3 separate regions of the Homo sapiens genome follow, and all the other regions are linked to region 3. Evidence: fine-mapped expression QTL. A gene starts in region 3. Each other region holds a variant in brackets. All regions are shown on one strand. Distances are between the middles of the regions.

Region 1 (4,202 bases), 300 kb after region 3:
ATCTGAGGCTGGGTAATTTATAAAAAAAGAGGTTTAATTGACTCACAGTTCCACATGGTCGGAGAGGCCTCACACTCATGGCAGAAGGCAGGTGAGGAACAAAGTCACATCTCTTACGTGGCAGCAGGCAAAAGAGCTTGTGTAGGGAAACTCCCCTTTATAAAACCATCAGCTGTAATCCCAGCACTTTGGGAGGCCAAGGCAGTGGATGACCTGAGGTGAGGAGATTGAGGCCAGCCTGGCCGACATGGTGAAACCTCGTCTATACTAAAAGTACAAAAATTAGACAGTCATGGTGGTGGGCGCCTGTAATCCCAGCTACTCGGGAGGCTGAGACAGGAGAATCGCTTGAACCCGGGAATCAGAGGTTGCAGTGAGCCAAGATCATGATAATGCACTCCAGCCTGAGCAACAGAGCAAGACTCTGTCTCAAAAATAAATAAATAAATAAACCATCAGATCTCATGAGGCTTATTCACTGTCACGAGAACAGCATGGGAAAGACCCATCCCCCGATTCAATTACCTCCCACTGGGCCCCTCCCACGATATATAGGAATTATGGGAGCTATAATTCAAGATAAGATTTGACTGGGGACACAGCCAAAGCATGTCACAGGTTATGAAACAAATTGATTCTAGCAGGCCAGACTTAAGAGAGATGAGCCCCTTGACCATCCCAAGGCAGAGTGGTTAACAGATGCAAGTTGTTTTATGCATCAGGAAAACAGGAGGGCTAGATATGCTATTATTAGCACAAGAGAATCAAGGCACAAGCCTTGCTGGCCTCGACCTCAGCTCAAAAAGCTGAGTTAATTGAACTTACTAGGTCCCTGCAGTTGGAAAGGATTTAAAAGTTAACATTTACACTGATTCCAAGTATGATTTTTTAGTGCTTCATGCTTATGCTGCAATTTGGAATGGGTGGGGACTCCTGACCCCCAAGGGCTTTTCCATACAACATCATTCAGATTTTGAGCTTGTTAGAGTGCTGCTTTGCTGCCAAAAAGTGACTATAATTAATTGCAGAGGACATCAAAAGAGAGACTGACCATGTAAAAGGAAATGCCCTTGTAGATGCCACAGCCAAGGCCCCTGCACTGAAAGGGCCAATGAAGCTTGTGGGCGTGCTGGTCAGCATACATAGAACTGGGCCGGAATACCCTGAAGAAGAACGAAAATGGGCCAGGGATTGCATTTCAGTCCAGGGCCCCTCGGGCTGAATGATGGTAATAAATTACTAACGCCAAGTACCAATCACAGGAGTATAACTCAGCACTTTCATGATTCTTTTCACCCTAGAAGGGATTCTTTGTTTCTGTTAATGTCTCATTTGTTTATAGGGGTAAATCTTTTCAAGACACTAAAACAGGTGACTCAGCCCTGTGAGCTCTGTGCCTGACATGACCCAAACGGCCAGCAATTTTCTCCTTCTCCAGTTAAACCTGTCCAACATTGAGGAACCAATCTACATGAGAACTGGCAACTCTAATTTACCCCGAAGCCTTTCTGCAGGAGATTCAAATATTTGCTAATGCTTACTGATACCTTCACTGGTTAGATTGAGGCATTCCCCACCCCATCTGAAAAATGTTTACCAGAAGAAATAACTCCTCAGTTTGGGTAATCTAAAAGCCTGCAAAGTGACAATGGCCCATCTTTCACAGCAGGCGTAACCCAACACCTATCTCAGCTTTAAGAATCCAATATTACCTTCACTCTGTGTGGAGACTGCAGTCCTCTGGAAAGGTGAAAGGGCTAATCCTACTCTACAGAAGACTCCAGCTAAATCAGACGCCTGACTA[T/C]CTCCAACACCCATAGCTTACTGCGGGTTTGAACTGCTCCAAAGTAAAACGTATAATTAAGTCCTGTTGAGTTAACATGTGGAAGGCCTTTCCTAACGACAGATCTCCTAATAGATGAAAAGACTCATCAATTACAAAAATATGTCATCAATCTGGGACAGGTGCAAAGGCACTCCGTGCATATGGAAACAAGAGTCTTCCCCTCCCACATGGGAGGAAAATTCAGTTTCAGCTCAGCTAGGGATTTAGTCTTACTAAAGACGTGGGAGGAAGTTCTCCAGCTGAGCAGCTTTCCCCAACGTGGAAGGGACCACGCAAGGACACCTGAGTTCTCCAACAGACGTTCAACGCCAAGGGATTCACAGGTGGGTGCACCTGTGTGGAAGTAAAGCTGTTGCTTATTCTGGGAGCCCAATCGGAGGCTGAGGGAGGTGGGCGCGGGGCTGTTTAAGCGTTGGCGGAGGCCGGGCTGGGTCGCTGCGCGTCTGCTCCTCCTTCTCGCGCTTCTCCTGCCGCCCTAATCCTGCCTTGGCCACGAGGGAGCTTGTGCTCTCACGCAGATCGGGCAGTGCGGGAACCAGATCGGGGCCAAGGTTGGCAGCCAGGGCTCTGAGGGCCCAGCCCGGGCCTGCCGGGTGGCCGGGGAAGATGTTAGCAGTGGCGGGGCGGTGCCCCTGCATTGCGGCCCCTGGGCTCCCTGCCGGGGACGGTGGAACTGGGTGGCTGGCGAGGCGGCCGGGGTGGACCCCAGGGACAGGGCGGCCTAGGGATGGGGGTGCGGGTGGGGGTGGGAGAGTGGCTGGGGTGCCTCCGTGACTCAGCCCCGGCCTGTCTGGCCCCTCCCGTCTCTTGCAGTTCTGGGAGGTGATCTCTGATGAACATGCTATCGACTCCGCTGGCACCTACCACGGGGACAGCCACCTGCAGCTGGAGCGCATCAACGTGCACCACCACGAGGCCAGCGGTGCGACCCCCGTCCTTCCCCCACCCAATGTGCACCACCACGAGGCCAGCGGTGCGACCCCCGTCCTTCCCCCACCGCCCTCCTGGGAACGCGGCCCTCCCCTCGCTCATGCCCTCCCGCCCCACGCAGGTGGCAGGTACGTGCCCCGCGCTGTGCTCGTGGATCTGGAGCCGGGCACCATGGACTCTGTGCGCTCGGGGCCCTTCGGGCAGGTCCTCAGGCCAGACAACTTCATCTTCGGTGAGCTGCGGGCGAGGACTGGGGTGCGGCTCCTTAGCCAGGGCAGCTCAAAATCCAGGAACGCTCCAAGGTCATCCTGTGGGAACTGTGGCGCCAGGGCCCCTGAACACCCTCCTATCTGCCGAGTCGAGTCGCTCAATCTGCCTCTCTTAAACGGGCTTCGGGAGGAAGTCCCGGGTGTCTCCTCAAGGTGAGGAGCTACTGATGTCCCTGCCGGGAGCTGAGCTGGGGCCGTGGCTACTGCCTTTCCTGAGAATGGGCAGGAGCCACCTGCGGCGAGGTCTGTGAGCCCGTCTCAGGTTTGACTCCTGACTTAATTCCTAACAGGGGAAGCTGCTGTCCTGTTACTCTGGGGGAGCGGGTTTCATTTGCTCCACCTGCAGGGCGAACGGTGCTCTCACCTCACGTGTGACACTTGGCTCTTTCTGCATTATGGTGGTGACCACTGATGACCGTATACCTGGCCATCGAGTGACCGGCTGTGCTGTCTTACAGGTCAGTGTGGGGCCGGAAACAACTGGGCCAAGGGACGCTACACCGAAGGCGCGGAGCTGACGGAGTCAGTGATGGACGTTGTCAGAAAGGAGGCTGAGAGCTGTGACTGCCTGCAGGGTTTCCAGCTGACCCACTCCCTGGGTGGGGGGACTGGGTCTGGGATGGTTACCCTCCTCATCAGCAAGATCCGGGAGGAGTACCCAGACAGGATCATAAACACATTCAGCATCCTGCCCTCGCCCAAGGTGTCAGACACCGTGGTGGAGCCCTACAACGCCACCCTCTCAGTCCACCAGCTCATAGAAAACGCAGATGAGACCTTCTGCATAGATAACGAAGCGCTATATGACATATGTTCCAAGACCCTAAAACTGCCCACACCCACCTATGGTGACCTGAACCACCTGGTGTCTGCTACCATGAGTGGGGTCACCACGTGCCTGCGCTTCCCAGGCCAGCTGAATGCTGACCTGCGGAAGCTGGCCGTGAACATGGTCCCGTTTCCCCGGCTGCATTTCTTCATGCCTGGCTTTGCCCCACTGACCAGCCGGGGCAGCCAGCAGTACCGGGCCTTGACTGTGGCTGAGCTCACCCAGCAGATGTTTGATGCTAAGAACATGAGGGCTGCCCGTGACCCCCGTCACGGCCGCTACCTAACGGCGGCTGCCATTTTCCAGGGTCGCATGCCCATGAGGGAGG
Region 2 (4,202 bases), 230 kb after region 3:
GCATGGTGGCGGGCGCCTGTAGTCCCAGCTACTCGGGAGGCTGAGGCAGGAGAATGGCGTGAACCCAGGAGGCAGAGCTTGCAGTGAGCCGAGATTGCGCCACTGCACTCCAGTCTGGGTGACAGAGTGAGACTCTGTCTCAAAAAAAAAAGAATAGATAACCTTCAGTTTCAACACCAGAGGACAAAAAAAAAAAAAAAAGAGATAACCAGGCCAGGTGCCCTGGCTTATGCCTGTAATCCCAGCAGTTTTTGAGGTTGAGGGAGGAGGATCACTTGAGCTCAGGAGTTTGAGACCAGTCCGGGCAACACAGGGAGCCCCTGGCTCTACAAAATATTAAAAAATTAGCTGAATGTGGTGGTGAACGCCTGTGCTCCCAGCTGCTTGGGGAGGCTGAGGTAGGAGGAATGAGCTGTGATGGTGCCACTGCACTATAGCCTGGGCAACAGAGTGAAACCCCATCTCAAAAAAAAAAAAAAAAAAAAAAGCAAAAGCTTCATAATACCATATATATTAAATAAATTAAGTTTAGAGTGGAAAAACCTTCCAAGAAAGACAATCCCAGGTCCAAATGGCTTCTTTATTGAAGTCTACCAACTGTTTAGGGAAGAAATAATGCCAATTCTGTATAGACTCTTCCAAAAAGTGGAAAAAGGGAATATTTTCCAACTTATTTTATTTTCAGAGGCCAGCTTTGCTCTGATACCAAAACTAGACAAAGACATGACCAGAAAAGAAAACTACAGACGAATATCCCTTATAAACATAGATTTTTTTAAATCTTCAACATAATCTTTAAGCAAACTGAATTTTTTTTTTTTTTGAGATGGAGTCTCACTCTGTTGCCCAGGCTGGAGTGCAGTGGCACGATCTTGGCTCACTACAAGCTCTGCCTCCTGGGTTCACGCCATTCTCCTGCCTCAGCCTCCCGAGTAGCTGGGACTACAGGTGCACGCCACCACGCCTGGCTAACTTTTTTGTATTTTTAGTAGAGACAGGGTTTCACCGTGTTAGCCAGGATGGTCTCCATCTCCTGACCTCGTGATCCGCCCGTCTCAGCCTCCTCCCAAAGTGCTGGGATTACAGGCGTGAGCCACTGCACCCGGCCAAACTGAATATATTTTAAAAGATAATATATGATGACACAAGTGGGGTTTACCCCAGGATAAGTTAGGTTCAGTGTTTGAAAATCCAGTTTACTGTATCAAAGAAGGAAAAGTATATGATTATCTCAATAGGTATAGAAAAAGCATTTGACAAAATTCAACATCCATTCATGATTTTTAAAATTTTACATAAAGTAGGAATTAAGGAAAGCTTCATCAATCATGTATCATAGACTCACTTATACGGTCAATTGATTTTTAACAAACTTGGAAAGGCAATTAATGGAGAAAAGATCATCTTTTCTACAAATGATGCTGGAGAAATTTAGACAATCCTATACAAAAAGAGACATTCTTGACATGCCGTTTTAGCTTGCTCGGGCTGCCCCAAGAAAATATCACAGCTTAGACAAAAGAAATGTATTTCTCACAGTTCTGGAAGCCAGAAGTCCAAGAGTTTGTGTTTGTGAGGTGGGTGTCACTCTTAGGCCTCTTCTCTTGGCTGGTAAACAGCCATGGTCCTGCTGTGTCCTCAAACAGACTT[G/T]CCTCTGTGTGTGCAGGGAGAGAAAAAGAGCAAGTGGATTTCCAGGTGTCTCCTATGAGACCACTGATTCTGTGGATCAGGGCCCCACAGGAACTCCTTGAACTGATCACCTCCTTACAGGCCCCGTCACCAAATACAGTCACATCTGGGGCTTAGGGCTTCTACATGTGGACTGGAGTTGGGGACAGCTTGATCCATAGCACATACCTTTTACCCTGTACAAAAAATAACTTGAAATGGATTGTAGACAGAAACGTAAAATCTAAAATTATGAAACCTGTATAGAAAACACAAGGCCAGGCGTTGGTGGCTCACGCCTGTAATTCCAACACTTTGGGAGGCCAAAGCAGGCGGATTACCTGAGGTCATGAGTTTGAGACCAACTTGGCCAACATGGTGAAACCCGTCCCTACTAAAAAAAGCTGGGCCTGCTGGTGTGCACCTGTAGTCCCTGGGAGGCTGAGGCAGGAAAATTGCTTGAACCTGGGAGTCGGAGGTTGCAGTGAGCCAAGATAGTGCCACTGTACTCCAGCCTTGGTGACAGACCGAGATTCCATCTCAAATGGAAAAAATCGATAAATTGAACTACAGCAAAACTTTTGCTATATGATATATATATATATACATATATATATATATTTGAGACAGTCTTGCTCTGTTGCCCAGGCTGCAGTGCAGTGGTGCAATCTCAGCTCACTGCAGTCTCTGCCTCCTGGGTTCAAACGATTCCTCTGCCTCAGCCTCCCAAGTAGCTGGGATTACAGGCACATTTCAACACACACAACTAATTTTTGTATTTTTAGTAGAGACGGGGTTTCACCATGTTGGCCAGGCTGGTCTTGAACTCCTGACCTCAAATGATCCACTTGCCTTGGCCTCCCATAGTGCTGGAATTACGGGAGTGAGCCACTGTGCCCCACCACAAAAGATATTTTTAAAAATGAGGCCAAGTGCAGTGGCTTGTACCTGCAATCCCAGCTTTGATTAACTTTGAGAGAAGAGGTGGGAAGATTGCTGGAATCCAGGAGTTCAAGACCAGCCTGGACAACAAAGTGAGGCTCTGTCTCTACAAAAAATAATTTTAAAAAATCAGCTGGGCATGGTGGCGCATGCCTGTGGTCCCAGCTACTCAGGAGGCTACGGCGGAAGGATTGCTTGAGCCCAGGTGTTCGAGGTTCCAGTGAGCTGTGATCATACTACTGCACTCCAGCCTGGGCAACAGATTGAGACCCTGTCTCAAAACAAAACAAAAAACCAGAATGAAAAGACAAGCCTAAAATTGGAGAACATATTTGCTAAACACGTATCTGCTATAGGATTAGTATTCCTAATATATGAAGAACTGTCACAACTCCCTAAGAAAATAACCCAACCAAAACAGACAAAAGATTTGAACAGAAGTGTCATCAAAGAAGATATATGGAAGGCAAACAAACACATGCAAAAATGCTTGATGTCATTAATCATTAGACAAATCCAGAATTTAAAAAAAAAAAAACCACAACGAGATTACACTCCAGTCTACTGGAGTTGCCAAAATGCTTTTCAGAATGACAATACTTAGTGCTGAGAGGGCAGAGCAACTGGAATTCTACATGTTCCCAGTCGGAAAAGAAAATGGTGCAGCCCCTTAGACAGTTTGCCGTTACTTCTATGGTCCAGCCATTGCACTTAGGAAATGAAAACATACATCCACACAATCTATGTGCAGATGTTTACAGCTTTATTCAAAATTGCCCCAAACTGTAAACAACTCATATGTCCATCAATTGGCAATGGATAAACAAATGGTGCATTCATACAATTAAAGAATACTCAGGAGTAAAAGGAAACACGCTACAGTTGCGTGTGGCAATGTGTATGACTCTCACATGCACCACACTGTGTGAAAGAAGCCAGATTCAAAGGCCAGTGTGCTGTATGATGCCATTGGCGTGACATTCTGGAGCAAAACTATAGGGACCCAAAACACATCAGTGGTGGCAGAGGCTGCCAGTAGGACGAGGGGTCGACTCAAGGGAGCACAGAGGAATTTGGGAGTGATCAGCTGTTGCACACCTTGACGGTGCTGCTAGGCACATGGGCGTATGAATTCACCAAAGTTCATAGAGAATGAAAAAGGGTGACTCTCACTGCATGTGAATTGTACCTTAATAAACCTGATGTTCAAGAAAGGTGAATCCAATTATTTTATTCCTCTGCTCAAAACCCTCCACTGCCTTCCCTAACCCTCCTGCCCACCCCTCCATCCACCCTGCCCCGAGGCCTCCCTGGCCCTTCGGGTGACACAGCAGGGCCAGTGTACTCGGGGGCTCCTTTTACCTTCAGGGCACACAGGCCTCCTCGGGAGACTGATGGCCGTCCTGTCCACAGCCGCAGCCCTGCTGATATTCCCCTTCCCCGCTCTGCTCTCCTTGCCTTGGCACTTTGCACTCTCCGGTACACTTTTTTTTTTTTTTTACTTATTACTGCTTTATTGGTAGACTAAAGCGTTGTCAACTCCAGAAGGGAAGTTTTTGAGAGTTTTTTGGTAAATATTGTTGAATGAATAG
Region 3 (4,202 bases):
ATAACCAGAAACCACAGGTCAAGGAACAGGCTGATGTGGCTTTCAAAGGCCAGCTCCAGCGTCACGCAGCACGGAGGGAAGGGCAGAGCAGATGTGGCGAGCCCAGCCTCCAGGCGCAGGGCTGCAGCAGTGGCCTCTCGTCTTGGCATCCCTCGAGAAACTCCACCCCTGCATAGCATCTCCACTTCTGTCCCCAGTAGGCAATTCTTAATTTCCACCCTGTGACTAACAAGCTCTTCCCTCTGTCTTCCCCATCTCGGCAAAGGGCATCCCCCTCGACTCAGTCACTCAGACCAAAAATGAAGAGCCTGTGTTTCTATCTCTCCTTCACATTTACACTGGACGCACTCTCTCTAAGAGAAAGAGGCACTGCTCATGGCCCCCATGTTCAAACCACATCATCTCTCTCTGTGCTGCTGTCAAAACCCCTCCCTGGGCTCTGATTTTTCTCTGTGACAGGCCAGTTGGCAGCCTCCCCGACAGCCTTAGCACCTGCTTCCCAGCTAAGCGAACCCTGATTTTGTTTGGGGCAACTATGTGCTCGCCTAGTGGGGGCTGGCCATCCTGGTCCACTTTGACACATGTTCACTTTCCCACCCTGTTAAAGTCAGGGCCGGCCACATGGCCCATGGCCTAACGGGGTTAAAGAGACACTTGCAGGGGGAGCCTCTGAGAAGCTTTTCCTTTGTTAGAAAAGAAAATCGTAACCTGATTCACAAAGTGGTCATCCTTTGTACACCTGCCACTTCCTTCCCGTTTGAGATGCTGGTGTAGCGGTGTGATGCCCTGTGCTATGACAGCCACCCTGGGGCATGAGGCAACAGGCAGGAAGGCAGAAAGTGTATGTGGGGATTTTGGAGGGAGGAGAGATGGTGGCTTCGTATTCAGTGAGATCACAATGGCATCGTGCAAGCTGCTGCTAGCTGGGAAGCGGGTTGTTCGCCTCTGAATGCATCCTAAGTGATTCAGCACCCCAGCCTCCTGCAGTCCACACTCCACACGGCAGCCCGAGGGACCCTTCAGAGGCCTACGCGCCTCTGCTCGGAACTGTGCGGACTGCCTCCCTCTCAGAAGGCGCAGCCCGCACCCGGCCTCACTCTGCACTCAGCGCCTTGCGAGCGAGCTTCAGGTCCGAGAGGGTCCCTTGTTCCCGAAGGTCTCCCCGACCCCGGGGCCGCCTTTTTGGAGGTTGTGAGGACCCACGGGCCTGCACGAAGTGAGCGCTGTGTAAATGGTTGCTGTGCTTTGTACAAAACGGTCAGCTCCGTGAGGGCAGAGCTGGGAGCCCAGGACAGGCCCGGCCCGCGGTGGGCGCTCAAGGAGGCCTGGGGAATGGCAGTGACCGTGACAGGTTCCCTAACGGGGCGTGGCCTGCAAGGCGGTCAGAGGCTTCTCTGAGCTGAGATCCCGGAGCCAGCCCCGTGCGTGGAAACAGCAGGTCCCGCACCCGGGCTGGGGGCCCCCGACAGAAGCGTCCGCGTGGCACCAAGGCCGCGAGCCGAGCGCACCCGGAGGGTTGGGAAGGCCGGGGACCCGGCGGGGACGGGGCGGGCCGGCCCAGGCCTGGCGCCCAGCTCTGGGCTGCAGCCCCAGGGCTGGTGGCGCCTCCGGGCGGAGCGAGGGGTCCGTCTGGGCCGAGTTTGAGGAGCCGAGGGCACCCAGGGGCGGTGCGGCCGGCAGAGTGGGCTCCGGGGACGGCCCGGGCTGGCGCTGAGCGGCCGTCGAGGACCCACAGGCTCGTCCGCTCCTGGGCCCGGCCCAGCCCCGGGGTGGGAGGCGCGGGGCGAGGGAGGCGCAGCCGGAGGGGCCGGGGCGGGGCGGGGGCGGCCGCGGGGCGGGGCCGGCGCGGCAGGGTGGGCGGGGCCGGCGCGGATTGGCCGGGCCCCGCCACGTGACCGGCCCCTTATAGGGCGTGGCGCGGGGCCGCGGAGTCGGGTGAGGCGGCGGCGGCTGCGGCGGTGGGGCCGGGCGAGGTCCGCTGCGGTCCCGGCGGCTCCGTGGCTGCTCCGCTCTGAGCGCCTGGCGCGCCCCGCGCCCTCCCTGCCGGGGCCGCTGGGCCGGGGATGCACGCGGGGCCCGGGAGCCATGGTCCGCTTCGGGGACGAGCTGGGCGGCCGCTATGGGGGCCCCGGCGGCGGAGAGCGGGCCCGGGGCGGCGGGGCCGGCGGGGCGGGGGGCCCGGGTCCCGGGGGGCTGCAGCCCGGCCAGCGGGTCCTCTACAAGCAATCGATCGCGCAGCGCGCGCGGACCATGGCGCTGTACAACCCCATCCCGGTCAAGCAGAACTGCTTCACCGTCAACCGCTCGCTCTTCGTCTTCAGCGAGGACAACGTCGTCCGCAAATACGCGAAGCGCATCACCGAGTGGCCATATCCTGCCGGGCGGGGCCGGGCGGGGCCGGGCGGGGACCGGGGTGGGGGCCGGGGCCGGGGCCATCTTCCCGGTGGCCGGGAGGGCGCGACCTGGGGAGGCGTCGGGAGACGGGCGAGGGGGGTACGGAGCGCCCCAGGGCCCCTCGGAGCGGCGGGTGCGGGAGCATTTCCGTGAGTGCGGCGGGCGCGGGGCGGAGCCCCTCTGCTCCGGACTCGTCCCTCCGCACGCCGGGTCCTGGGGATCCTGGTCGGTGCACAGTGCGCGGCTAGCCTGGAGGGCACCGAGGGCGAAGCCGCGTCCGTGCAGGTGCGAGCGCTGTGGGGACGCGGCCGTGCGCGCGCCTGGCTGCAGGTGCCTGCGTGTGCGGGCTGAGCTGGAGCCTGGCGCTGCGCGTGCGTGCGCTCGCGATGCGGGCTACATGCATGTTCACGTGCCTGTGTAGGTACATGTGGCTGCGTGTCTGGAGGGAGCAGCGTGCGCCTGCGCGGGGTCTCCCTCCAGCCTCGCCTGGGGGCGCTCGGCCCCCTCCCCTCGGGGCCCTGGAGTCGGGCGGAGCCGGGCCGGAGGCGCTGTCCGCGGTGCTGACGGCCGCCCGGGTGTGCCGAGGGGCTGGCGGCCCAGACTGCGGAGGCCCCGCCTCGCGGCCGCCCCTAGGGATGGGGGCAGGGAGTGAGGGAGACCAGGCCGCTTCCGCCAGGAGAGGGGCTCCGGACCCAGTTGTCTCAGCCCCTCCGGAGACGGCCTAGCGGTGGCTGCTGCACTGGGCTCTGCTGGCGTCGGCCTCGTGTTTCCCTCCGTGCGGCGTCTGCCGGCCAGTCCTTAACTCACGCACTCCATTCGAGTATATGATCCTGGCCACCATCATCGCCAACTGCATCGTGCTGGCCCTGGAGCAGCACCTCCCTGATGGGGACAAAACGCCCATGTCCGAGCGGCTGGTGAGTGCCCGGCTGGGCCTGAGGGCAGGGTGGTGGGGAGGCCGCGACTCCACTTTCCTTTATGGTCTGTGCCTGAGAACAGCTTCCTCGGGCAGGGTCGTCTGGGCAGTGCCCCTCGCGTCTGAAGGAAAAGGTAGGCCTGGCAGATAACACCTTCCTCGAGGGCCAGGGCAGCTGGGGTCACCGGCTTAGCCCTGGGCGTGGCCACGTTAGCCCTGGGCCAGTCTGCCCTGTGCCACGAGCTACTCCTGCACCTCAATGGCTGTCCTGGCTTTCGGCGCTAGACTTTGATCCAGAAAACCATGTTCTAAACTTGGGGTGGGGAAGGGGCATTCATGTCTTCGGGAAGGTCAGCTCTGAATGCCATGTGTGCCCTGCTGGGCTGAGATGGGCTTTGGCCTGGATGTGGGAACCCTGAGCCTCATCCTCCAAGTTGTCTTGTGCGGGCCTGCTTGGAACCTCTTCTCCAGTGGGCCTCACCATCCTGTGGGAAGCATTCCTTCTCAAACATTCTGAATCATTTTTACCTGTCCCCAGATTCCAGCCAAGAGGCCCCCGTGGTAGCCCCCATTGGAGCATAGAGTCTGTGTGAGTCAGGGTGCCAGGGCAAGGTCTCCGTGGCTCAACAGGAGGCAAGGTGGAAGGCCAGCCCTGTGGGGTCTCTGGAGGGGCTGGGTCAGAGGAAGGGCAGCATTTTGGAGGTGAGCAGTTTCTGAGGTCAGAGCATGTCCCCCAGCCCCCACTCTTCCCTGATGCCTGGCCCCATGTCTGGGTTCCGAGTGTGCCTAAAGACTGGAGCCTCCAGGTGAGCAGAAGGCAGAGCAAGTGGGGGCCCAGGGGGTGCGGGGCCAGAGGCGTCCAGGAGACGGCCTCTCTGGGGTGTCAGGAGCT

The links. PIP is the estimated chance that this variant, and not a neighbour inherited with it, causes the effect.
Region 1: its variant is the best candidate, but not a certain one, in a credible set for the expression of CACNA1B in nucleus accumbens (GTEx, PIP 0.74).
Region 2: its variant is the best candidate, but not a certain one, in a credible set for the expression of CACNA1B in cerebellar hemisphere (GTEx, PIP 0.88).

Annotation. Positions count from the first base shown.
Region 1 is chr9:138,172,704-138,176,905 of GRCh38, forward strand. It overlaps the pseudogene TUBBP5. Among named protein-coding and RNA genes, the nearest start is that of FAM157B, 42 kb to the right of the region's middle. The variant T/C (reference allele first, on the strand shown) is at 1,805.
Region 2 is chr9:138,107,844-138,112,045 of GRCh38, forward strand. The region is part of intron 39 of CACNA1B (calcium voltage-gated channel subunit alpha1 B); the gene reads left to right. Among named protein-coding and RNA genes, the nearest start is that of FAM157B, 110 kb to the right of the region's middle. The variant G/T (reference allele first, on the strand shown) is at 1,651.
Region 3 is chr9:137,875,849-137,880,050 of GRCh38, forward strand. CACNA1B (calcium voltage-gated channel subunit alpha1 B) reads left to right here and starts at 1,934. Exons shown (of 47, transcript NM_000718.4): 1 at 1,934-2,369; 2 at 3,206-3,311. The coding sequence starts at 2,086. The region is part of intron 2 of CACNA1B-AS2 (CACNA1B antisense RNA 2); the gene reads right to left. RefSeq lists an enhancer at 2,127-3,042.